Homo sapiens: one gene and its partners. The protein of the gene in region 6 purifies or fractionates together with the protein of the main gene of each other region. This does not show direct contact. Each region holds a gene or a part of one and is shown on either strand. Other genes may lie near its edges. The genes, in order: C1orf198, WDR47, RAB11FIP1, NENF, DIPK2A, RAB11FIP5 and KLHL8.

Evidence for each region.
Region 1: the proteins of RAB11FIP5 (region 6) and C1orf198 fractionate together in Homo sapiens (co-fractionation; one large-scale study listed by BioGRID). This does not show direct contact.
Region 2: the proteins of RAB11FIP5 (region 6) and WDR47 purify together in Homo sapiens (affinity purification with mass spectrometry; one large-scale study listed by BioGRID and IntAct). This does not show direct contact.
Region 3: the proteins of RAB11FIP5 (region 6) and RAB11FIP1 purify together in Homo sapiens (affinity purification with western blotting; one study listed by BioGRID). This does not show direct contact.
Region 4: the proteins of RAB11FIP5 (region 6) and NENF fractionate together in Homo sapiens (co-fractionation; one large-scale study listed by BioGRID). This does not show direct contact.
Region 5: the proteins of RAB11FIP5 (region 6) and DIPK2A purify together in Homo sapiens (co-immunoprecipitation; one study listed by IntAct). This does not show direct contact.
Region 7: the proteins of RAB11FIP5 (region 6) and KLHL8 purify together in Homo sapiens (affinity purification with mass spectrometry; one large-scale study listed by BioGRID and IntAct). This does not show direct contact.

What each region holds. Positions count from the first base shown.
Region 1 is NC_000001.11:230,858,522-230,862,021, forward strand, and holds part of C1orf198 (uncharacterized protein C1orf198), read right to left. Parts: intron 1-3,500.
Region 2 is NC_000001.11:109,035,603-109,039,102, forward strand, and holds part of WDR47 (WD repeat-containing protein 47), read right to left. Parts: intron 1-3,500.
Region 3 is NC_000008.11:37,858,118-37,861,497, reverse strand, and holds the end of RAB11FIP1 (rab11 family-interacting protein 1), read left to right. Parts: 3' UTR 1-2,880; downstream 2,881-3,380. UniProt on the Homo sapiens protein: A Rab11 effector protein involved in the endosomal recycling process. Also involved in controlling membrane trafficking along the phagocytic pathway and in phagocytosis. Interaction with RAB14 may function in the process of neurite formation.
Region 4 is NC_000001.11:212,442,920-212,446,879, forward strand, and holds the end of NENF (neudesin precursor), read left to right. Parts: intron 1-1,419; coding exon 1,420-1,523; intron 1,524-2,910; coding exon 2,911-3,087; 3' UTR 3,088-3,460; downstream 3,461-3,960. UniProt on the Homo sapiens protein: Acts as a neurotrophic factor in postnatal mature neurons enhancing neuronal survival. Promotes cell proliferation and neurogenesis in undifferentiated neural progenitor cells at the embryonic stage and inhibits differentiation of astrocytes.
Region 5 is NC_000003.12:143,985,323-143,988,822, forward strand, and holds part of DIPK2A (divergent protein kinase domain 2A isoform a precursor), read left to right. Parts: intron 1-220; coding exon 221-524; intron 525-3,500. UniProt on the Homo sapiens protein: May play a role in cardiomyocyte proliferation through paracrine signaling and activation of the PPI3K-AKT-CDK7 signaling cascade.
Region 6 is NC_000002.12:73,081,949-73,085,448, reverse strand, and holds part of RAB11FIP5 (rab11 family-interacting protein 5), read left to right. Parts: intron 1-3,500. UniProt on the Homo sapiens protein: Rab effector involved in protein trafficking from apical recycling endosomes to the apical plasma membrane. Involved in insulin granule exocytosis. May regulate V-ATPase intracellular transport in response to extracellular acidosis.
Region 7 is NC_000004.12:87,182,619-87,186,118, reverse strand, and holds part of KLHL8 (kelch-like protein 8), read left to right. Parts: intron 1-319; coding exon 320-868; intron 869-2,729; coding exon 2,730-2,916; intron 2,917-3,500. UniProt on the Homo sapiens protein: Substrate-specific adapter of a BCR (BTB-CUL3-RBX1) E3 ubiquitin ligase complex required for The BCR(KLHL8) ubiquitin ligase complex mediates ubiquitination and degradation of RAPSN.

The DNA of each region.
Region 1 (3,500 bases), on a different chromosome or scaffold from region 6:
CATCCACAGGGTAGAGTAGAGATCCAGCTTTGGATCTTTCGAAAAAGGTAAATGGAAATCAACTGGCAAAGGTGCTCCTTCCATCCAGAATCAGACAGGCCACTGGCCACCCAAATGGAAAGAGGAAGTGCATGAACACCTGCGGGGCAGGCAGAGGGCAGGACCACTGACTGGCCAGGGTGGGGCATGATGGAGCTGGACTCCCCTGTTACTCGATATGATTCTAAATATTAATTATATACCTTAAGTCCCTTTGAAATCTGCAAAGATTAAAATAATAAGGCTTTTGGCTTTGGAAGGTGGCTCAATACAACACTCTGAGGAACGAAGACTTAGCCCAGAGCTTGGGGACAGTCAACTCTCCAGTGACTGCAACCCATATTAGCTGAAATTCCAAGGGGGTCACAGGAGGAGAAAGGGTCACACTGTGATTTCTCCCCTACTTAGTGTCGAGTCAATAGTCTTCTGTTTGCTCCAGCAAGAAATGAAGTCAAGGGGCAGATTCCTTGGGTTTCTGTAATTCTGAGCTCATAAAAAACAATAAAGTGCTTAACAAAAATAAACATGCCAAACAAAAATGTGATGGAAGCTCTGATGTCAGCCGTGGACTGCACGCTCTAGCCACAAAAAAGCACTGGCGGCAAGAACAGGCTCCCTGGGCTGTTGGATGCAAATGGAATCAGAATTGCAAAGTGGCGGCACCCACTCACACGCATACAATGCTGTCCTTTCTTCTACTCCCATGGTGACCAGCCTGCAACCAAAATGAGGCCAGGCACATGCTTTTGGACCAATCACATATGCTTTTTCTAGGACTGCTTGGAAGGCTTTCCCACCCCCCTCTCTGGCGCCTAGGATCTGAAATCATCTAAGTGTCAAAACACATCTGTTACTTAGGCCACACGACAAGAGAGTGGGCTTCATTGTTGGCCAGGACTTATCCTCAGAGTCAAATTCCGTAAGAGGCATCCATACCAAATGGGCAGCACTGAATCTCTCCAGAAACAATGACTTCTTTGGAGTGCAGAACAGAAAGATGCCCCAGGTCACCAAATCCCAGAGCAGAAAGCCAAAAAGCAGGGGGGAAGCTATAGAAAGCCACCAGAAACACAGAGCACTTGGCAATTATCAGAGGCCAGCGCTACATGTAAGAGGCTCTGCCAGTCCCCACGCAGCTCCAAGGACTCCGGGATAAACACACACACAAACAATCTTTTTCCCTAACATCCCAGAGACCTTGAGTATTTGCTCTTCTCTGGGAAATGTTCATTCAATTCAGTGTGCACCTCCTAAATCCTAAATGAAACAGAATTAAAAATAATAACATATATTTTTTGCTCATAGTGCTGGAATACATGTTTGCATCATATCGCCAGCGTTTACTTCTTTACTTGTTGATAAAAAAAATGGATACTGGAGGGCTTAAGAACTCTGTGGTTCCTAGACACTTTTATTTTTGGAGGCTGCAAGGCTGCAACCAGAGGTGTGTTGGAGCAGGCCTGCACCAACTAACGAGAGCTGATTGTAAAATTTTGAGGAATTTCTTGAACCTGTTGTTAAATATCTTGTTTAACTGCTGTGATTAAAAAGGTGAATTATACAAACTTGCAATTAAGTCCATTGTATTAAAAATAAAGGTAATATACTTCACACCCACAAGGATGGCTACTATCAAAAAGCAGATACTGGCAAGTATTGGTAGGATGTGGAGGCACTGGAACCCTTGTGCACTCTTGGTGGGAATGTAAATGATGCAGCCATTATATAAAACGGTTCGGCAGTTCCTCAAAAAATTACACATACAATTACCATTTGTTCTAGCAATTTCATTCCTAGGTATACACCCGAAAGAACTGGAAGCAGGGGCTCAGAGATCCTTATACCCCGATGTTTATAGCTGTGCCATTCACAATAGCCAAAAGATGAAAGCAACCAGGTATCCACTGACAGATGATGAATGCATAAACAAAATGTGGTCTATCCATCCAATGGAATATTATTCAGTCTTAAAAAGGAAGGAAATTCTGATACATGCTTCAACATGGATGAACCTTGAAGACATTATGCTTAGTGAACTAAGCCAGACACAAGGATAAAAATCATGTGATTCCACTTATATAAGGTACCTAGAGTAGGCAAAATCATAGAGACAGAAAGTAGAATAGAGGTTATCAGAGACTGAGGCCAGGAAATGGGGAGTTATTGTTTAATATATACAGAGTTTCATTGTTTAAAGGATATAGTTTCACTTTAAATAATACACGAGTTCTGGAAATGGATGGTGGTGATGATTGCACAACATTGAGACTGTACTAAATGCCTCGGACTATACACAGAAAAGTGGTTAAAACGGTAAATTTTATGTTGTATGTATTTTACCACAATAAAAAGTCATGGAAAGACATGGAGGAACCTCAAATGAATATTATTAAGTGGAAGAAGCCAATCTAAAAAGGCTACATATTGTATGATTCCAGCTATATGATATTCTGGAAAAGGCAAAACTACAGAGACAGTAAAAAGATCAGTGGCTGCCAGAGCCTGGGGGGCGGGAGGCATGAGCAGGTGGCACACAGAGGATTTCTGTTAAGGCAATGGATCCCCTCTGTATGATACCATCATGGCGTATACCTCCAAGAGCGACCCCTAGTGTAAACCAGAGACTTCGGTTGACAATGATAAAAACAATGCAGGTTCACTGATTGTAATCAGTGCACCACTCTGGTTTAGGATGTTGGTGGTGGGAAAGGCTGTGTGCATATGCACGTCTGTGTGTACATTTTGGGAAAGGTCTGTGTGGGAACTCTCTGTACTTTCCGCTCAATTTTGCTGGAACCTAAAACTACTGTAAAAACTGAATTTTTTTAAAGTGTGCCCCCCCCAAAAAAAGTAATAAACACTAGAAACTCATCATTTCAATACAGTTACTATTATCCATGGTCTTAAGGTTGTTTGCATCCATTGTATGTGTAAGGTGGAAATACCATATAGCGCGGTGCCCAGATATGCATCCCGTGAGTCACGCCAACAGCGTGCAACGGGCCATGGTGGAGTATCTGGTCATGGCAACCAGCAAATGCTAGAAGTCAGGGCTAGTTCGCCTCACTCCCCCAGAGCCGGCTCCAGCATACCACAGGCTACAACCATAACAAACATCCTGATATTCATCACATTCTGCAAGTGTTTCTGGTGTGTGGATGGATAGCGCCTGCAGAGGGAGCTGTCCAGCATGGGGGCTCCCTTAGGGCCTCCACAAGCTGTTCCAGGAAAAACAGCTAGGCGGGGAGTGAGGGGCTTTCTGGGGTGATTCTAAAACAGCATCAGGATCTTGGAACACGGCAACACGCGTATTGATGCCAGAAATGGTCATCGTCTTCCTGAAATCCATAAATAAGGAGAGTTTCTGGTTGACACCTGTGGCATCTTGGCTTGAAGGTAAGAAATGTAAACTGAGAAATTCTATAAGCTAGAGAAATAAGGCTTAGAGAGCAGAGCATGTG
Region 2 (3,500 bases), on a different chromosome or scaffold from region 6:
TTCTCCTGCCTTGGCCTCCCGAGTAGCTGGGATTACAGGCGCCCACCACCACACCCAGCTATTTTGCATTTTTAGTAGAGACGGGGTTTCACCATGTTGGCCAGGCTAGTCTCGAACTCCCGACCTCAGGTGATCCACCCACCTCGGTCTCCCAAAATGCTGGGATTACAGGCATGAGCCACTATGCCCAGCCAATTTTTAATTTTGTATCTTCTTTTTTTTTTTTTTAAGAGAAGGAGTCTTACTATGCTACCCAGACTACAGTGTAGTTGCTATTGCCGGGCCTGTTCATAGCACACTACAGCCTCAAACTCCTGCGCTCAAGCAATTCTTCTGCCTCAGCCTCTTGAGTAGCTAAGACTATAGACATATGCCAACTTGCCTGGCTCAATTTTTAATTTTAAAGCAAAAAAGAACTATGAAAATGAAAAATATATACATATTAAAGGATTAGATCTCAAAGGTTTTAATCTATAAAGGTACCAACTAAAGTACAATCCCCAAAACAGGATTAACTGCTTTGTTTACAATGCAAAAACTACTGGGTACTATTTTAGGATCTTACATTCATTGTCTAATCGATCCTTACAAAAACCATTCTTCACCAGAAGATAGCTTCTAGATCCCTTCCCACTCCCGTCATCCTCCTCTAAATATCTGTTAATCCCCCTCCTAAAGAACCCAAAATAGGCCAGGCGCGGTGGCTCACATCTGTAATCCCAGCACTATAGGAGCCTGAGGCAGGTGGATCACAAAGTCAGGAGATCCAGACCATCCTGGCCAACATGGTGAAATCCCGTCTCTACTAAAAATACAAAAATTAGCCGGGCTTGGTAGCGTGCGCCTGTAGTCCCAGGAGGAGGTGAAGGTTGCAGTGAGCCGAGATGGCACCACTGCACTACAGCCTGGGCGACTGAGCAAGACTCCGTCTCAAAAAAAAAAAAAAAACATAGTCCAGGCGCGGTGGCTCACACCTGTAATCTCACCACTTTGGAAGGCCGAGGCAAGCGGATCACGGGGTCAGCAGATCGAGACCATCCTGGCTAACACGGTGAAACCCCGTCTCTACTAACAATACAAAAAATTAGCTGGGCGTGGTGGCAGGCGCCTGTAGTCCCAGCTACTCAGGAGGCCGAGGCAGGAGAATGGCGTGAACCCCGGGGCGGAGCTTGCAGTGAGCCGAGATCATGCCACTGCACTACAGCCTGGGGCGACAGAGTGAGACTCCATCTCAAAATAAATAAATAAATAAATAATAAAGCACAACACTCCAGGTGTGGTCTGATCAAGAACTATATACAGTGAAACTAACAATTCCCATCATCTAGGCTCTTTACAATGAATACACCTAAAATTTCTTTATATCATCATCTATTTGTGAAATGCTGTTTTTGCACTTCCCGGAATTTCATTTCCAAAGCTCTTCTTAAAGTTTCAAAGAAAATCGCCAGGTGCGGTGGCTCACGCCTGTAATCCCAGCACTTTGGGAGGCCGAGGCAGGCAGATCACCTGAGGTTGGGAGTTCAAGACCAGCCTGACCAACATGGAGAAACCCCGTCTCTACCAAAAATACAAAATTAGCCAGGCGTGGTGGCACATGCCGGTAATCCCAGCTACTAGGGAGGCTGAGGCAGGAGAATCACTTGAACCTGGAAGGCAGAGGTTGCGGTGAGCCGACATCACGCCATCACACTCCAGCCTGGGCAACAAGAGCAAAACTCCGTCTAAAAAAAAAAAAACAAAAAACAAAACAAGACTGGGCGTGGTGGCTCACGCTTGTAATCCCAGCACTTTGGGAGGCCGAGGTGGGCAGATCACGAGGTCAGGAGATCGAGACCACAGTGAAACCCTGTCTCTACTAAAAATATAAAAAATTAGCCGGGCTTGGTGGCGGGCGCCTGTAATCCCAGCTACTCAGAGAGGCTGAGGCAGGAGAATGGCATGAACCTGGGAGGCGGAGCTTGCAGTGAGCTGAGATCGCACCACTGCACTCCAGCCTGGGGGACAGAGCGAGACCTCGTCTCAAAAAAAAAAAAAAAAAAAACCAACCCAATTCTATAAAATTTTCTCAAAAGATTTTATAAAAGGTTCCATTTTCTTTTTCATCACAACAACAAGAGTCACAAAACATGGTACTTAGCCATAGGAAAAAAACATTATTTGAGTTACATATGTCAAGCATACTACATAACTAGTAATTATAAATAGTATAAAATTTTTATGTCTTTTTGCTTGTAGTACTATTTTTTTCTATCTTTCTTTCTTTCTCTCTCTTTGAGACTGGGTCTCACTGTCTCCCAGGCTGGTAGAGCCTTGTCCACCCAGGCTCAAGTGATTCTCTCACCTCAGCCTCCCCAGTAGCTAGGACCACAGGTGTGCACCACCACACTCAGCTAGCATTTTTTTTTTAATTGTTTGTAGACATGAGGTCTCACTATGTTGCCCAGGCTGGTCTCAAACGTCTGGGCTCAAGCAATCCTCCCACCTCATCCTCCCAAAATGCTCGCATTACAGGTATGAGCCACCTCGCCCAGCCCAGTACTATTTCTCAGTTAAAACAGGATGTTGACTTGTAAAATGAGAACAAGCTCCTAGCAGAGTGGCAAGCATGCAACTGGTGCTCAATAAATGTAAATTCCTTCCCTTCAGAGCTCCTAGCCTTGGTAAGGACAATGTGTCAAAAGGACTGCTAATGAATTGCTGCGGGAGAGCTACTGTGCTGTGAAGTATAAAAATTTACTTTGGAATAAGCTTACTTATTTTTGAAAATATTTCAGTAATTTAAAAAATATCGAGCCAGGTGCAGTGGCTCATGCCTGTAATCCCAGCACTTTGGGAAGCCAAGGCAGGCAGGTCACTTGAGTCTAGGAGTTCAACACCAGCCTGGGCAACATGGCAAAACCCTATCTCTACAAAAAATACAAAAATTAGCCAGGTGTGGTGGCAAGCACCTGTAGTCCTAGCTACTCGGGAGGCTGAGGTAGGAGGATCACTTGAGCCCAGGAGTTTGAGGCTGCAGTGGGCTATCATCATGCCACTGTACTGCAGCCTGAACGATAAAGTGAGACCCTGTCTCAAAAAATAAATAAACAGGCCAGGTGCAGTGGCTCACGCCTGTAATCACAACACTTTGGGAGGCCGAACTGGGTGGATCACTTGAGGTCAGGCATTCAAGACCAGCCTGGCCAACATGGTGAAACCCTGTCTCTACTAAAAATACAAAAATTAGTCAAGTGTGGGGGTATGTGCACCTGCAATCCCAGCTACTTGGGAGGCTGAGGCAGGAGAATCACTTGAACTTGGGAGGCGGAGGTTGCAGTGAGCCGAGATCACGCCACTGCACTCCAGCCTAGGCAACAGAGCGAGACCCCATCTCAAATAATAACAATAATAATAAATAAATAAATAAATAAATATTGGAAAGTTCACTGAGATCAATTATGTTAAACATACTATATGAAGAAACTCCTACTTGTGATAATATTCATCTGAAGCCATTT
Region 3 (3,380 bases), on a different chromosome or scaffold from region 6:
AAAGGGATTGAACTGCATCTGCATGTCTGTCCTTTGAACACTTTCTCTCCCTGCCCAAAAGGAAACCCAAATTATTTGTGGGATACTGGGGAAATTGTAGTGAAGGGCTTAATGTAGTTAATAAAAGTTAAAAGTCAGTAGAAAACAGGTGCCTCAGCCTTCAAATGGTTGCTTTTTTTCCATTTTCCCTCATGAATAGACTCACCAGCATTTTACCCCCTTGTTATAAAACTGTGCAGAGCAAGAAGATGATACTTATTTTTGAATTTGTATTTTTAAAACTAGATTTATAGACTTTTTTTTTTTTTAACTAGGGCACTTGCTTCCTTCTTAGCTAAAAGCACCAGCTGAGATTTTTCAGGTAATTTTGTTGTTACTCACTTAAGACTGGAATTAGAATGTTTCTGGTATTTCTCATTTTTTTCCCTGGCTATGATAGAATCTCATCTAATCTTGACATCTCTCCTAGGGGAAGAATATCACAGGCTAATAGCGTGGTTGGGGGTGAAGATGATAGCAGTTATTAAATCAGGAATCTCTTTTATGTGTGTCCTTGTTACATTGAGGTTAAGAGACAAAATCATTGGCAGTGCAATCTCTTTCCAGGATTTCGTTTGCTGTGGCATTGGTTATATCAGAGCACTTTAATCTGAAGGATGATACTGTAACTTGATTTATCTAATTAGCTTTTAATTATCTACAGCTATTTTATTTTATTTAATTCTCTCCTACAGTACTGGGACCACTGTAAACTTCTCAGATGACTTGTATTTTTGTAGTGCTATGAAATTTATTTACATACTTATAAAGAAAACTGTATGTTCACTTGAACTCTGAAAATGTACATGTATGGCTGGACGCGGTGGCTCACGCCTGTAATCCCAGCACTTTGGGAGGCTGAGGCGGGTGAATCACTTGATTGAGGTCAGGAGTTCGAGACCAGCCTGGCCAACATGGCAAAACCCCGTCTCTACTAAAAAATACAGAAATTAGCTGGGTGTGGTGGCAGACAGCTGTAATCTCAGCTGCTCGGGAGGCTGAGGCACAAGAATCGCTTGAGCCAGGGAGGTGGAGGTTGCAGTGAGCTGAGATCACATCATTGCACTCCAGCCTGGGCAACGGGCGAGACTCTGTCTCAAAAAAAAGAAAGAAAGAAAAGGTACATGTATATATTTGTCCTGCATTATGTTTTTTACTTGATATAAATGTATTTTTACTGTGATAGTCCAAGTGCCCTGGGGGGCAGGTGTGCTCTATGTGGTTCTTCTTCCATTGGAGAGCTGGCGTAGAGATCTGCAGTGTTCACAAGGATGTTGGTTTGGAGATGTCTGCTGCTAGGACCTGGGGTGTGTGACTCAGTCCATATGAGAGGGACATCTGGGTGGAGGAGTAAATTCCTGTGCTCTGAAATGCCACTTGGTAGCTCTGGACAATGAAGGACAATTGACTCAAGGGTGCCTGGCTTCTGCTGCTGCTGGGAAAAAATTCAGTTTATAGCATTCCTGCACCTCCCAAAGTAGATAACCTGGAGGTCATTCAGTTAACAACTGTCCCTGAGGACTCAGTTTTGGGGGAGGGGTTATCTGGGAGAAGCTTTAGCCTGTTCTGAGCCATTAGGAGACATTAGTGAATTGGAGCACTGGAGAATCCTACAAATGGCCTATGTCTCAGAAGAGCTGGGACCTCCTTCCAGCTGCTGCAGATGCTGACAGGCCCTGGGAGGCTGCTGTGCTCTGGAGAAGCTGGAGCAGCTCATTTCTTGGCCTAGCCTGGCTGCCTCAGAAAGAGCAGTCAGGACTTGAGGGAAGCATCAAATTCTATACCCATAAACTGCAGTTGGAAGTCAGCTTTTTGAAATGTCCAGCCTTTGCCCAATTGTTTCAGATCATCTCATGCCTCAGGCTTTGGCAGGTATCCTGCCCTCCATCTTATTCCAGTGTGTTCACCTCATCAAGGCAGCAGAGTGGATGAAGGAGTAAGTCTGCCCTTTGCCATACTGAACAGCTGTGGACCCCGATTGGTGAGGGCTCTGCATATGCCTGTATGAAGGAGATACAGGTGTGTGTGCACATGCCGGTATGAAGAAGACACAGGCATGTGCTTCTCAGTTTTGCTAACAGTGGGAGCTCAACGGGGCAGAGGGAGGAAGGTCCATGATGCTCAGCCACATACTGTAGAGAGAGGCAATTTAATGTTAAATGACGCACCATCCTCCCTCCCACCCTTCTCCCAGTCAACTTTTTTTCTTTTTCTAGAACTACTAATTATCTCTCAAGGCTGAAAAATTAATTGCCTTAGGTGGAGAACTTAATTCCTAGTATCCACCAAACTTAACTCCGTATCTCCATATGGTGTCTCCATATCTACTGTGTGAGCTACTTAACTGACGCCCTCTTCCTCCAACTGAAGGATCGCCCAACGTTTTTGGATTATAGAATTATTATTTCCTGCTTTCTTTCTTTGGGACTTTTGAATTTCTTTGGTTTCGTTTTTAAGAAGTAACCCAACATTTCCTACAACACTAAATAAAATGGTACTTACCTTTCAAAGATTTGTGTCTGTAGTTTGGTATGGGTGCAATAAAAATTTATTTTGTCTTCCTGGAAAACCTCTCTTGGTGGGGGTGGGGGGATGACCAGTGTTTCTCATCCCATGAGGGTCTCTCACTGGGATTTCTGTTGCTGCCATCTTGCCTGGTTCCCAGGAGTCCCAAGGCCCTTTTTCTCAAAGAGGACGGACATGTCTGGTCCCTTCGGATGCACCCTTCATCTTGGCCTGAGGGACCATGGCACTGGCCAGAGAAACTGAGTTGGAACGTGCTGCCCCCTTTTCCTTTGCAGCCGGTACCCTTGGCTGAGCATTTGGACAGGGTCTTTCCTCAGTTCCCACCCCCACCACACACACAGGTTCCCACAGAGTGATGTCTTCACTTTGGGGGCATGAGTTGAATTCAGGCTGGGCTCAACTGCCCCATCTGGGAACCAGGTCCTTGTTCAGTTGACTTAGTTTGTCCATGTGTGAATAGAGGGTATTAGGGATGCACAGGAGTCTCCTGGAGTTCATCTCTCCAAACCCCAGGCCTTTCCCAAGGAGGTGAGAGGTGTGCCTGCCCCGCGAGCGGTGCACGTGGTCCACACTCCAAGGTCCCAGACCTCTTGGAATGGAAGTGATACCTTTGCTCTTAGAGATGAGTCACATTGTAGAGAGACAGAGGCAGGCGGTGCCTGTGAGACTCCTGGGCTGGGATGGGGGAGCTTCCCTGAAGGCCTCCCTGGTTTTGGTGGAGAGGCCTGGTGATTCCAAGTGGACATCGACTGCCATGTGTAGTGACATGAAGACACTTAATAAATTTTATTTTATTTATTAAATCTCTTAATAAA
Region 4 (3,960 bases), on a different chromosome or scaffold from region 6:
TTTAGTAGAGACGGGGTTTCACCATCTTGGCAAGGCTGGTCTTGAACTTCTGACCTTGTGATCCACCCGCTTCGGCCTCCCAAAGTGCTAGTATTACAGGTGTGAGCCACCACACCTGGCCTTCCTTCCATTTTAAATGAGCAGATTGAGTTAATCTTTGTCAGTGTTTTACTTCAGCAGGGGCTTTTTTCCCCTGATAATGACATGCTTCTACTCAAAAGCCTTTCATGACTTTCCATTGCCTGTAGAATTAAATTCAAACTTAATGATTTACCCTAGTTGAAGCAATGAGAGAAGTGTTCTTTAGTAAAGAGTTGGCATTATAGAACATTACAGAACATTTTAGTGCCATTTAATGTAACTACTAATGATATCTTGGAGATAGTTTTGTATTGGTTTATCTATTATTTGATAACAAACACTGCTGAATGGGAATAGATTTGGCTTCCACCAACATTTAAGAAGAGGGAACATTTTTCTTGTTTGCATCTTTAATTTTTTTTTTGGAGACAGTCTCGCTCTGTCGCCCAGGTTAGAGTGCAGTGATGCGACCTTCTCCAGCTGCCAGGTTCAAACGATTCTCCTGCCTCAGCCTCCTGAGTAACTGGAATTACAGGTGCACGCCACCATGCCCAGATTTTTGTATTTTTAGTAGAGATGGGGTTTCACCATGTTAACCAGGCTGATCTTGAACTCCTGACCTCAAATGATCTGCCCATCTTGGCTTCTCAGAGTGCTGGGATTACAGGCGTGAGTCACCGCACCCAGCCTGCATCTCTAATATTTTTAAGAGACTATTTTCTCAGTATTAACACTTAGGTGAAAAAACAGAACGAGAAGGGGGCTAGGCACAGTGGCTTATGCTTGTAATCCCAGCGCTTTAGGAGGCCAAGGTGGGCAGATCATGTGAGCTCAGGAGTTCAAGACTAGCCTGGGCAACATGGTGAAACCCCATCTCTTCAAAAAAAAAAATACAAAAATTAGCTGGGCATGGTGGTGGCACATGCCTGTAGTCCCAGCTACTCTGGAGGCTGAGGTGGGAGAATTGCTTGAACCCGGGAGGTGGAGATTGCAGTGAGCCAAGATTGTGCCACTGCACTCCAGCCTGGGCAAGAGTGAGACCCTGTCAAAAAAAAACAACAACAAAAGAGGTTGTAGGGGTACTATTCTCATTTTATATTTTCTGAAAATCCCTGCTCAGCCTGCATGTGTGACTTACTTCACATTTAGAGTAAGTGGAATCCAACCTGATGGCTGGGGTGGCTTACTGGACTTTGTATCGCCATTGTTTGGCCTCTCCGTGAGCGTGGAGTCTTTTTTAGGATTGGGTGCGGGCCTTGGGAGCGCCCCCACGTGCAAGCTCCTGGTTACTCTGCATGTAAACCCACGCTTACGTCTCTTCCTTCCTTCCCACTACAGAGTTTTATGGACGAGGAGCCCCCTACAATGCCTTGACGGGGAAGGACTCCACTAGAGGGGTAGCCAAGATGTCCTTGGATCCTGCAGACCTCACCCATGACACTGTGAGCCAGATTATAAGCCTTTGTAAAATCCTCTACCTCCTTGTCCATGCCTTTTTCTCTTTTTCTTTTTCTTTTCGTGTGTGTGTGTGTGTGTGTGTGTGTGTGTGTGTGTGTGTGTGTGTGTGTATCTGGGCAAGAGCAAGCCTTCCTAATTAGCTTATTTACCCTTCGGTCCACTTGGTATGGTGGCCAGGCATTTTCTTGAAATAGATTATCCTACCATGTCATCTCGACTCAGAAACCTTCCATGGCTGTCTGTTGCCTAGAGTCAAGTCCAAACTCTTATGAACTTGTGATCCAACTCAGTGATCATCACAATTTGGCCCCAACCTGCTTTGGCAACCTAATGCTCCTTATGGTCTGTACCTGCCACCCCATCCCCTCAGCCCCTTACAGCCTTGCTATTAGTCTCTGAGACCCATTCCCCAGGCCATGCTTGGTAGCTTTGTGGATGAACTGGGTTGGGAAGAAAGGTCTCCCTCTATGCTTATATTTCTGTGAAGGAGAAGATAGCATTAAAACATTTTTTAGGCCAGGAGTGGTGGATCATGCCTGTAATCCCAGCACTTTGGAAGGCAAAGGCAGGTGGATCACCTGAGGTCAGGAGTTTGAGACTAGCCAGGCCAGCATGGAGAAACCCCGTCTCTACTAAAAATACAAAAATTAGCTGAGTGTGGTGGTGCACACCTGTAATCCCAGCTACTTGGGAGGTTGAGGCAGGAGAATCGCTCGAATCCAGGGGGCGGAGGTTACAGTGAGTTGAGATCATGCCACTGTGCTCCAGCCTGGGCAACAGAGTGAGACTCCATCTCAAAAAAAAAAAAATTTGTTTTTTAAACCTATTCAAGGTCTAAATAATTCCAACAGTAAGGCTGGAATTTCCTCTAACTGTGCTCAACATCAAACTGACATTGAGATAAATTGAGATGAGCCAAACTCATAACAAAATGAATGTAACAATATTACAAAAATGAATGAAGAACTTAAGAAAGGGGAAGGTGCCAAATGTATAATGGGAGGAGTGTAGAGAGAGGGATAATGGGAGCAGTGTAGAGAGAGGGAGGATTAATCGGGGGGAGGAAGGGGATGCAGATGCAATAGGGCATGCCCTGCCCCACCCCAGCATGCTCTCTGGAGTCTTTCATCCCTTCCATCAGTCAAACCACAAAGTGTGATGAAGCATTGCTCCCCGTATGTTATACCCTCCCACCCCCACGCCCCCCCCACAGCAGTGTCTCTTAAGCCATTTGTCCATTATTTGGTTTGTTGAGATATCTTTTCTCTTGCATTAGGGATGTGGGAGGCAAGGCAGGGATGGAGAAAGGCCAGTGCCAAACACTATCCACTTAACCCCATCTCCTGTCTTTCTTGGGCTTTTCTCCCCAAGACGGGTCTCACGGCCAAGGAACTGGAGGCCCTGGATGAGGTCTTCACCAAAGTGTACAAAGCCAAATACCCCATCGTCGGCTACACTGCCCGGAGAATTCTCAATGAGGATGGCAGCCCTAACCTGGACTTCAAGCCTGAAGACCAGCCCCATTTTGACATCAAGGATGAGTTCTGATGTTCCCCCTGCAGGAGCAGGTTCTTGGGAGCGTGAGGCAGGAAGACACTAGGTGCTGAATCTCCTGCAAAACTGGCTGCCTGGAGGCCCTGAGCCACCCAGATCTGAATAAAACAGATGCTTACCCTGGAAGAGCAAATGCCTCCTGTTGTCCTTGGTCAGGGGTTCTGTCTACCTGGGGACCCCTGTCTGCACACCAGGGATCAATAAGAGCCAAAGTGGGACACCTCCTAGATGTCAGTATCAGCTGGCTGGGCAGTGGAATTTTGAGCGACCTTTACTTTATACTTTTCTGTGCTTGACAGATTTTCAGCCATGACCATGTTCACTTTATAATCAAAACAAAAATAAAGGTCCCATTTTTACAAAAGGAGAATTCTTCCCCAGAGGCCATTTCCTTGGAGCCCACATAAGCGGGTGGGCTGTGTTGTTCTTCCATAGTCCTGCGGGGCCGGATGGTGGGGCATTTAGGCAATGGGCAGGAAAAGAGAGTGGTGAGGTGGGAGGGTGGGCGATGGGAAGGGAGCCAGGAAACCCGGCTGGAGTGAGGGTGGGAACTGGCTTCAGTGCACGTGCAGCTGGAGATTGGTGAGGAGGGCCGGGGTCAGTGTGGGCAGAGCCTGGTGGAGGTCATTCCAAGAACGGGAGGCATATTCCTTATGCTGGACTGAGGTCAGATTTTAAGAGGAAGCCCCTTTTGTTAGAGTGGGCAGATTTTTCCCTCTGGGGACATTGGGTGATGTCTGGCAACATTTTTTTTTTTTTAATTTTTGTCTGTCATGACTGCAGGATGCTACTGGCATCTCGAGGCCAGGGATGCTGGTCAACATTCTGTAATGCACCTGACAAAGCATCATCCGGTCCGAAATTTCA
Region 5 (3,500 bases), on a different chromosome or scaffold from region 6:
ATTTTAGCTTTATAATGTAAAGTTCTCTATTTAAATTTTTTTCAGGTCCATAGTACTGGTATGAGTTAGGAAAAAATGAAGTTAATCTCTAATAAACTGTTGAATGTAATAAGAAAATCCAAAGTCATTCCTAGTAGCAATCTCTACTGAAAGGATCTGAGGATAGACCTAGGATATTTTCATCAGAATCTCTTGTAATATTAAGATAATTCTTTTGTAGAGTTTTCCGTCTGATGAAGGTTGGCCATTTGCAAAGTATCTTGGAGCTTGTGGAAGAATGGTGGCTGTAAATTATGTTGGAGAAGAACTGTGGAGTTACTTTAATGCGCCATGGGAAAAACGAGTTGACCTCGCTTGGCAATTAATGGAAATAGCAGAACAGCTTACAAACAATGACTTTGAATTTGCACTCTACCTCCTGGACGTCAGCTTTGACAATTTTGCAGTTGGTCCTAGAGATGGGAAGGTAATCATTGTGGATGCTGAAAATGTTTTGGTTGCTGACAAAAGATTAATTAGACAAAGTAAGTATATAATTTTAGATTTTTTTCTACTCATTTTTTCCTATGTCAAAATAATGTTTATACTTGTATGAAATGAGCCTTGAATTTCCTCCTTAGATGGCAACTTTAAGCGTCTTTCTTTGCTTTATATGACCACTGTCAATAAACAAATACAGATACTCTTTGACTTACTGGGGGTTACATCTTGATAAACCCGGTGTCAGTTGAAAATATTGTTATTTGAAATATATCTAACCTACGGGACATCATAGCTTAGTCTTGCCTACCTTAGACATACTCAGAACACTTACATTAGTCTAAAGTTGGGGGAAATTGTGTAAAACAAAGCCTATTTATAATAAACTGTTGAATATAATTATATTCATGTAATATATTGAATTCTGTACTGAAAGTGAAAAACAGAATGGTTGTATGGGTTCTTGAAATATGGTTTGTACTTTATTTTTAACCATTTTGATGATCCCTGGCACTGCAGCTCTGAGTTTGGTTTGACATTCTGATTATTACATCTCACCCAAAACTTTGCTCTCCATTTACTTTTGAGTTCTTCATGGGATAGATGAGTAGTGTCTGAAGTGTTTTGAAAATTAAATGCCGGCCGGGTGCGGTGGCTTACGCCTGTAATCCCAGCACTTTGGGAGGCCGAGGCGGGCGGATCACGAGGTCAGGAGATCGAGACCATCCTGGCTAACACGGTGAAACCCCGTCTCTACTAAAAATACAAAAAATTAGCCGGGCGAGGTGGCGGGCGCCTGTAGTCCTAGCTACTCGGGAGGCTGAGGCAGGAGAATGGCGTGAACCCCAGGGGGCGGAGCCTGCAGTGAGCCGAGATTGCGCCACTGCACTCCAGCCTGGGCAACAGCGAGACTCCGTCTCAAAAAAAAAAAAAAAAAAAGAAAATTAAAGAAAATTAAATGCCATAGAAGTTGTAAAGCATCAAGAACAAAGCCTGTAGGTCTAGAACCAATTCAGTTAGCAAAACCAAAGGGTTGTTGCTCCATGGTGAGGGTTTTATATTTTTTAATCCCCTCTTTCCCCCTGATAAAAGTAATATGAGTATCTTTTGACAAACAAAGGCTGAAAATTTACGGCACCTGGGGAAAAGTTTATGTGACAGCCATATATTAGGTTGACATTTACTTTTTGCATGATCTTGGCATGATCCTATTAAATACTTGATTTTTCCCACTCCCTTTTTCAGATTTTATACTTACCAGACCACTTTTCTGATTATTTCTTGACTTGCCATGTAGATCCTCCTACAGGAAGTGAACACCCTGCTGGAGTATTCTACTCTCTATTTACCTCTTCCTACATCTGTGAATATTGTAGCAGCGTATACTATTCTTTCTTTTTTAAAGTGTACACAAGCAGGTGGTTTTTAGTATATTCATAGAGTTGTGCAATTTTCCTAAGCTTAAAAAAATTATTTCAGTGTTTATAACAATAATTTTTTATAATTCATTTTATGCAGACATTCCTGGAATAATTATTACTAATTCCTGACCTTAGATGAATCCAGCCATATAGCTTCTGTATTCTTCCATTTCATACAGTGAGCATTGCTCTAGTGCTGCTTTAACTGTGGTCATTTCTTTTCAAATGTCTCATGGGTCCTCTAAATAGTCACTTTGCAAAAGTCTCTGTCTGTTCATTTACTCTCTTTTCTTTCCACTTTCTAGTAAATGACCTTTATTTTATTTCTTCACAGGGAAATTGAGATTTTGCTGTGGCAACTCCCCCAGTGTCCTTTATCATCTAAACCTCATTAAAACAGCAACAGATAGATTCTTCTTTGAGAACTTGTTACATCAGTTATCTTCTTCAGTGTCCCACCTCCTTCCTTTAATATCCAACTTCTCTTGCCTTCCTATAAAAAGTATATATAAGACTCTCTTCTGCTTCTCCTTGCTTGTCCACTGTTTTTAAAAGTATTTATTGCCTTTCTGCTTCCTCAGCCTCTATTCATTCCTTAGTCCATTAAAACCTGACGTAGACCTCTGCCTTGCCATTAGCAACCACCTAATTGGCAAATTTGTGAAGTGATTGTGACTAGTATCAACTTCTCGAAGTTGTTTCCTCCTTTGGAATAGTAACCTTCCTTCTTTTGGAATAGTAACCTTCAAAAAACATTAACTTACTACTCCTTTGCTTAAATGGTTCTAATGACTTCCCATTGTTCTGGAAGTAAAATCCAAACACCTTAAAGCCAGGGCATAATCTGTAATCTGTGTGACTTGGCCCTCTTCTGATCCTTTTTTTTTTTTCTTTTTTGAGACAGGGTCTCTGTCACCCAGGCTGGAGTGCAGTGGTGTGATCACGGCTCACTGCAGCCTTGACCTCCCTGGCTCAAGTGATCTTCCTGCCTCAGCATCCCAAGTAGCTGGGACTACAGGCACATACCACCATGCCTGGCTAATTTTTAAATTTTTTGTAGAGGGTGGGATCTCGCTGTGTTGCCTAGACTGGTCTCAAACTTGTGGGCTTAAGCAGTCCTCCCACCTTGGCCTCTCAAAGTGCTGGGATTACAGATGTGAGCCACCCCGCCCAGCCTGTGTATATATGTGTTTTTCGAGTGCTTCATTTTTAATACCCCTCCATCTATTGCCCTTGGTGCTTCTGCTACAATGGCCTCTTGTTTTCCTGAATGAATCGGCCCACTTCTGGGCATTCCCAGTTTCCTCTTCCAAAAATGTCTCTTCCTTCTTCCCTATACAGCTAGCTATTTGTTTTTCAAGCCTTGACTCCTTCAAGTACATGTGTGCTTATGTGTTCTCAATTTGCCTAATATCCCTCTTACCTCAAAATCATAAGTTTCAAGTCTAGTTCTAGTTGTACATATGACATGCCCACCTAATACCTTATAGCTCCTTTATATTTATTTTGTTTATATATAAAATATTGACACTATTATGGCAATTGTACATACCTTGTCATCCAATTAGAACCTTAAACTTTACCCATATACTTAATTAT
Region 6 (3,500 bases):
CAAAGTGGATTGTCTTTGTGTCTATCCCGGGTCATCCTTGTGTTCCCTTGTTCCCCGCCCCCCACACTAACCATAGGACTCTATGCACAGAAGGGGATCAAATGTTGATTACAAAAACTTTTAAAGTTGGGAATAAGTGTGGTACAACATAGAGATGAGTGTATCATGATGGTGGCCTCTGGCAGTCTCTGCAGTGCCTCCCTGCACCAGGTGTGGTAGGCAACAAGGTCCCTCCCTGTGGGCCTGGAATGTGCTGTGGCAGCGGAAGGAGCTTGGCTGCATTCTTGGTGGTGTAAATGAGTAACTATAATGTGCTCCCAGTGGCTTGGAGTTAGTGCAGCCTCACGTCCTGCTCTCCTCATGTGCTCCTCACAACCATGCTCTTGTCATGGTTACTGTATTAACAGTGTTCTGGTTTGGAAGATAAATGATACGTTCTCCCTACTTACAGCTTACAAGGCCCCTGTCACCTCATTGTGCCCAGGTGATGGGAGAGGATGTACCCGTCTCTTGGACATGTTTCCTGCACGTTGGGCCCATCTCAGGAGGGTCAGGAGGTCGTGCCTCAGGATGGAAGGCTGAAGGGCAGTGTTGCTAGAGATGAACGTGCCTCCAAGGCTGGCTTCGGCCTTTGGGGGATTGCCTGGTAGAGAGCTTGTGCAGATTCACTTGCCATCTCTGGGACCAGTGTGTGGAAATAACAAGGACACAGAGCTCTTTTCAGCCCAAGGAAGAGTTGTCTGCTAGTGACACCTGGCCTTCAGCTACAGAGGTAGCCCTGTGGTGTAGTGTTTAAGAAGAGGGGCTGTCAGGGTGAACAGGTGGTTCCTGTGTTGAGTGGCAGGTTCAACCAATTGTTCAGAGCTTCCTGCAGGCAGTAAAGTTTTATTCCCTCAGGTTGAAGGGGCAGAGACATCTGGACTTCTGACTTCCTTCCCAGCATTTGATCCTAAAAGAGAAGACAAATCAGCATATATTGCTGCCCCCACCGCTTGGGGGTGGGGAGAGTGTGCCAGGCCGGCACAGTAGGTTCTAGGATGCAGAGGTGTTTATTTGTTCTCAGAGCATGACCTGCAAAGACAAGCATACGTGGGAATATGTTCCTGACCTGGGCCAGGTGGAGTGGGAGGGAGATGTTTTGAAGTGAGAACCTTCAGAATGTGCACTTGGTGTGGAGCAAGGAAGAGGAAGGCATGAAGGAGGGATGTGTTACCAGATAGGAGGATGGACAGATGCCCTCAGAAGTACTGCTGGCTCTGTAAAGCCTGCCAGGCCTGGTGCTTGGAGTCCCTTCCTCCAGGGAGAGCCCTTTGCTGATTCTATACAAACAGGTTTGTGTGTACCTCTGGGGAGCTGGCCGGGAGAGGGAGGTTGCCGAGCCTAACCTGAGGCTCCCAGTCTACTCCCCTGCCGCTCTTGTCCCTGCAGTTCTGACTGCCAGCCAGGTTGCTGAAAGACTGCAAGGGTGAGTGCAGGCCAGGTTAGGGCTGAGGGGGCAGAGTTAAGCGTAGTGCTTTTAATGTTGATGGGACTCTCTTCCTTCAGACCACTGTGGCCTATTGTCATAAAGGGGGCTGGGGAGAGAAGCAGCTCAGAGTGCTCTAGCCCTGTTCCTGGGGGCCCGGGTCCTGTAGACAGGGTTGGGCTGGGTGTGGTATGGATGCACTAATGGCAAGTGGGCTGAGGTCAGGCTCTTGACCTGGTGGTGGTGTATGTTGCTTCTCACTCCCCTTGGTCCCCACAGCAGGCATGTGTGCCTTGGCCTGGGGCTTGTCTGGAATGAAGGGAGAAAGGGCATCTGCTGGGGTTGAGGCTCTGGGCCCACGATTCTTCCTCTTTTGGTATCTTCACCATGTCCATAGAAGCAGGGTAGTAGTGGAAGCCCAGGTGGGGTGGGAACAGGTGGGAATTTTTACCTCCCTCTCCCTCCATCTTTAGGTGGAGGGGATGAGACTGAGAATTTACCTTTGGATGGGGAGTTATTGTAAGGGGAAAAATAGGGTCAGGAGACTCTCGGGAAACTGATTCTTACGAGAAATCCCTGGGTTTGGGACCTGTGAGGCTGACCTCCCTTCTCCCAGAACCATCTTTGGAGCTACCTGTGCCTCTGTTTAGTTGGACTCCTTCCTGTGGTCCGCCCCTGGTGGTAGCTGCCGAGCTGACCTGCCTCAGTCCACCTCTGTGTGGGTCTGCCCTCTTTGGGCCCTGGGTTCCTGGGAGAATCCGGGCAAGCTCCAGACAGCTCATGCTCTTTCCACAGGTGCCCTTCCTACCCCAAGCCACACTCCTTATGGGCTGGCTGGCCAAAGCCCGGCTTCTGCCCCTTCAGGACTCACTGTCTACATTTCCTGTGCAAGAAGCTGGTTGGCTTGAAAAGTCGGATGTGTAGGGGTTTCCCCAGGATATTTCCACCTGGACAGGCAGGAGCCAAGGAACAGGGGTCCTGGAAGCTTAGAGCCAGGCCTGGGAGACCAGCCATGAGGAGGGAGACTGCTTAGAAGGCAGAGGGTGAGGCCACCGAGGTCTGCCTCTGACGGTGGCTCAGTGGCAAGGCAGCCATTTTTTCTGGCCTTCTGTCTGGGTCCTAGGGAAGTGAGAAGCTCTAGTTTGAGAGCACGCCCCTGCCCGCATCTCTGGAGTCGGCCTCACTCTGTGGATAAGCACCAGTGCAGGGGGCGTTTCCCCCAGAAAGGACCCTGTCCTGGACAGATGAAGGCCAGAACCTGTTCTCCAGTGTCCTAAGAGCACCTGCCCTGTCCCCGTCCCCAGAGTCCCTGAGAAGCCCCTGGTGACATCCAGAGTTGCTGCTGCTGTCACACTGCCAGCCTTGGCAGACAAAGGCTGGACCATCAGGGCACCTTTTGGTTGACGTTCTCCACAGGTGGCTTATATTCCTTAGCCAGTTAGGCTGCCCCTCAAAGAAACAAGACACCTTGTCACACCCAATGACAGCCCGTCATTACTTCTGCTTCTGCAAGGGATCAATAGAACCCAGGCTGTTTCAAGTGTCAGAATTCTAGGTGCCCTGCTAGGTCCTATAAGTTCTGGTTTTGTCCAGCCAGATACCTAGGCCTGGCCTTTCTCTGGTCTCTTTATCCCCCCATGCCAGCTGGTGTTTTCTTTGCTTTTAGTCCTAAAAGGGGCCAGGCTTAGTGGCTCATGTTTGTAATCCCAGAACTTTGGGAGGCCAGGTGGGCAGATCACGAGGCCAGGAGTTCGAGACCAGCCTGGCCAACATGGTGAAACCTCATCTCTCCTAAAAATACAAAAATTATTCAGGTGTGGTGGCACACACTGAGGCACAAGAATGGCTTGAGCCTGGGAGGCAGAAGTTGCAGTGAGCCAAGATCGCGCCACTGCACTCCAGCCTGGGCAAGAGACTCTATCTCAAAAAAAAAAAAAAAAAAAGGGATGTAAGGCGCTTTCAGATTAGTTTTCCCAGATGTAAATTCCTTGTTGAGTAGAACCTTAGAAGCTTCAGCATGGGATAGAGGAAAGAA
Region 7 (3,500 bases), on a different chromosome or scaffold from region 6:
TGCAGTGAGCTGAGATTGCGCCGCTGCTCTCCAGCCTGGGCAACAGAGCAAGGCCTTGTCTCAAAAAAAAAAATTTTTTTTTAATTTTAAAGTATGTGTATATATATATATGAATATGATATGTGGTTAATTTGGAATATGAAAATTACCTGACTTTAAGAAACTGGCCTACTTGAAAGTAAGTGATCAAAGGATCGCCTTATAAAAAGATACTCTAAATTTGTCTGGAAATTTTGTCCCTGCTACAAACACATGTTAAATGCTGACCTGAAGCTGATTTTGATATTAAACAGAATCTTTCTTGGTTTCTTTTGAACAGGTTGGCTCAAAGCTAATCTCTTGTCACAAGCTGGTATTGGCTTGTGTTATTCCCTACTTTAGAGCCATGTTTCTTTCTGAAATGGCTGAAGCCAAGCAAACGCTGATTGAGATTAGAGATTTTGATGGTGATGCAATAGAAGACTTGGTAAAGTTTGTCTATTCTTCACGGCTCACTTTGACTGTTGACAATGTCCAGCCTCTCTTATATGCAGCCTGTATTCTGCAGGTTGAACTGGTGGCTAGAGCTTGTTGTGAATACATGAAGTTACATTTTCATCCCTCCAATTGCCTGGCAGTAAGAGCCTTTGCAGAAAGTCACAATCGAATAGACTTAATGGACATGGCGGATCAGTATGCCTGTGACCATTTTACTGAAGTAGTGGAGTGTGAAGACTTTGTAAGTGTATCACCGCAGCACCTCCATAAGCTTTTGTCCTCCAGTGATCTAAATATTGAAAATGAAAAGCAGGTCTATAATGCTGCCATCAAGTGGCTTCTTGCCAATCCTCAGCATCATTCCAAATGGTTGGATGAAACACTTGCACAGGTAGGAGCTGAAATAAGATTTCACACAGAAATGAAGTGATATGGAAGCAAATCAACATGCTTCATTTATTAGGAAAAGTGTAGATTATTTCAAGGAATATAGAAATTATTGATGTAATAAATAATAGAAATGGCTTTTAGCTCTCTAATTTTCCTGTTAACTTGCTGTGCTGTTTCAGGATGAATCTAAATTTGTCACATTTGAATTAGCAATATCATTCTCTGCTTTTAACCTGAATATTTAAAATATTCCTTTGGGATACTAATGATGAATATTTTATTTATGCCAATAGAAAATGGTTTGAAGAAATAGCTCTAAATTAATATACTTTATAATTATTGTTTTATAATGGTTTCTAAATTTTAATGAATTATTTTGCTAATAAAAGTATAGTTATTCCTAATGTGGATAGATTTATTATGTAAACAACCATAGGACATCACTTCTATTTTCTTCTCTCACCGTAGTTTGACTTTTTTTAAACCTCAGAAATGTGTCTCATTGTTACTGTTCTTATTTTTTACTGTCAATAGGAGTTACCAGGATAAGAAGATTATAGGCCCTTGTGATCTTTTTTTCTTTTGTCGTCTTCCTCTCCTTTCTCTCCCTTCCCTCCTTCCCTTCCTCCATTTTTTCCTTTCTTCATTTATTCCTGAGAAGTAAAATGACATTTTGCTACTTAAAAGAAGAGTGTTCTTATTTACTTATTTTTTCTAAATTAAATGCTTTGTTAAAACTTAGTGCTTGATAAAAGCACTCAGTGATAATTCTCGTGATTTTTAATAACAAAGTTTCCTAATAGCATTATCAGAAACTTAAACAAATAGTAAGAAGAATGAAGAAGAATGAAAGTGCTTATAATTACCAGTGTTCTCATTTTAGATATTTATAGGCAGATGAAGTAAACCTATTCAGAGTATGATGATAAGACATTTTTTCAAGTGCATATCACAATATTTATGCATTCATATGAGTATCAAAGTTCAGAACACATTTACATCTTCTCAGAATTATTTTGAAAGTAAGTTTGTCAGCAAAGCAAATAGAAAGTTTCATTATCTTGCAGCTATATCTTATTTGTGTATATGTGTTTTTCTTTAAGATGGTAAGGCAGATTTCGTTCAAGGGGGGCCATAACAATAGATACAGGGACTGCTGCAACGAAGTCTTGCAGTTGGGGAGAGAGACTGGACTCAACCCCTTACGTGTGTGTGTGCTTTTAACTCAAAATAGCATTACCTGGTTTCATCATCCCCTTTAATCCACTGGAAAATCAGTGTATCTTTAATAGAGGAATGGTGAATGCCTCTGTTGAAAGAGGGGATGCATCCCTAAGTTAGTATATTCCCTTCCAAGATCATTAATTTGAAGAAAACAACACTTGTTTCAGATATGAATTTTTACATTTTTAAGTAAGAAATCACATTTCCCTATGTTTAATCTTAGCTTAAAAAGGCAAAAGAACAAAGCACAGCACTTTTGTTTTGATTGTGCCTTTATCAATAGAAGGGCCTTGTGATTATGTCAGTACCGTTTTTGGAAGTAAGCAATTTGAATGAAGACAATTCAATTATAAAGCCTATTTAAACCGATATTTAAAGTGGGTGGATATAATTTAACGTGTAGTCTGATTGCATTTGAGCAGACCAGTACTGGAAATTGCTTATAATTTGGCACATTGAAAATCATGAACATGTTACATTTCATGAAGTAACAACTTAAGTTTTAAAAAGAGAACATGCTGCAGTAGAAGTGGAGAATTACTCATCTTGTTTTCACCTTTATTTGATACAATTTTTAGACTTTATATTTTCCCAAGAAAATATAAAATTTGTTGTATTGCAACTATTCATGATCTTAGGTTCGCCTGCCATTGTTGCCGGTTGATTTTCTTATGGGTGTTGTGGCAAAAGAACAGATTGTCAAGCAAAATCTAAAATGTAGAGATTTACTGGATGAAGCAAGAAATTACCACCTTCACTTGAGTAGCAGAGCAGTACCTGACTTTGAATACTCCATTCGGACTACCCCAAGGAAGCATACTGCTGGTAACCAAATTATTTTGTCAATTCTCCTGGAAGGATCTTTGTTGTATTTGAGGGTTGTTCATGTGTGCCCAAACTTAGTTGTAATATAATTAGTGTCTGATTGCCTTAAAGTAATAATTGGCAAATACGGTTTTATATATTTATAATTTTTACTGTACATTATTTAGTTTTACCAATAAGCCAGTTTTTTAAAAAGCCGTAATCAGTCCTGTATACTCTGAAGAGCCTACTGAAATATCTCTTCTTTTGAGATCTTTCCCGATTCTGAACTTGGTTTACTATGTTGCATTGTCATTTACTCATTTGACATGTCTTAAGTTCTTCAAAGACAGCTGAGTATCTTATTTAGGTTTCTATCCCTAGGGCCAAGCATGGAACTTGAAATATATTGTGCATCTAAATATTTGTTTTTTCATTTTACCAAATAAAAAGGGCACTAAACATAGCTAACATTTGTATAATGGGTTATATTAAACTCTTAGAGTCTAAAGCCCTTATATTTTAGGAGGCAGGCAGTTTCACCTTTATTTGATACAATTTTTAGACTTTATAATTTTTCCCAAGAAAATAGTTCATGTTCGCTT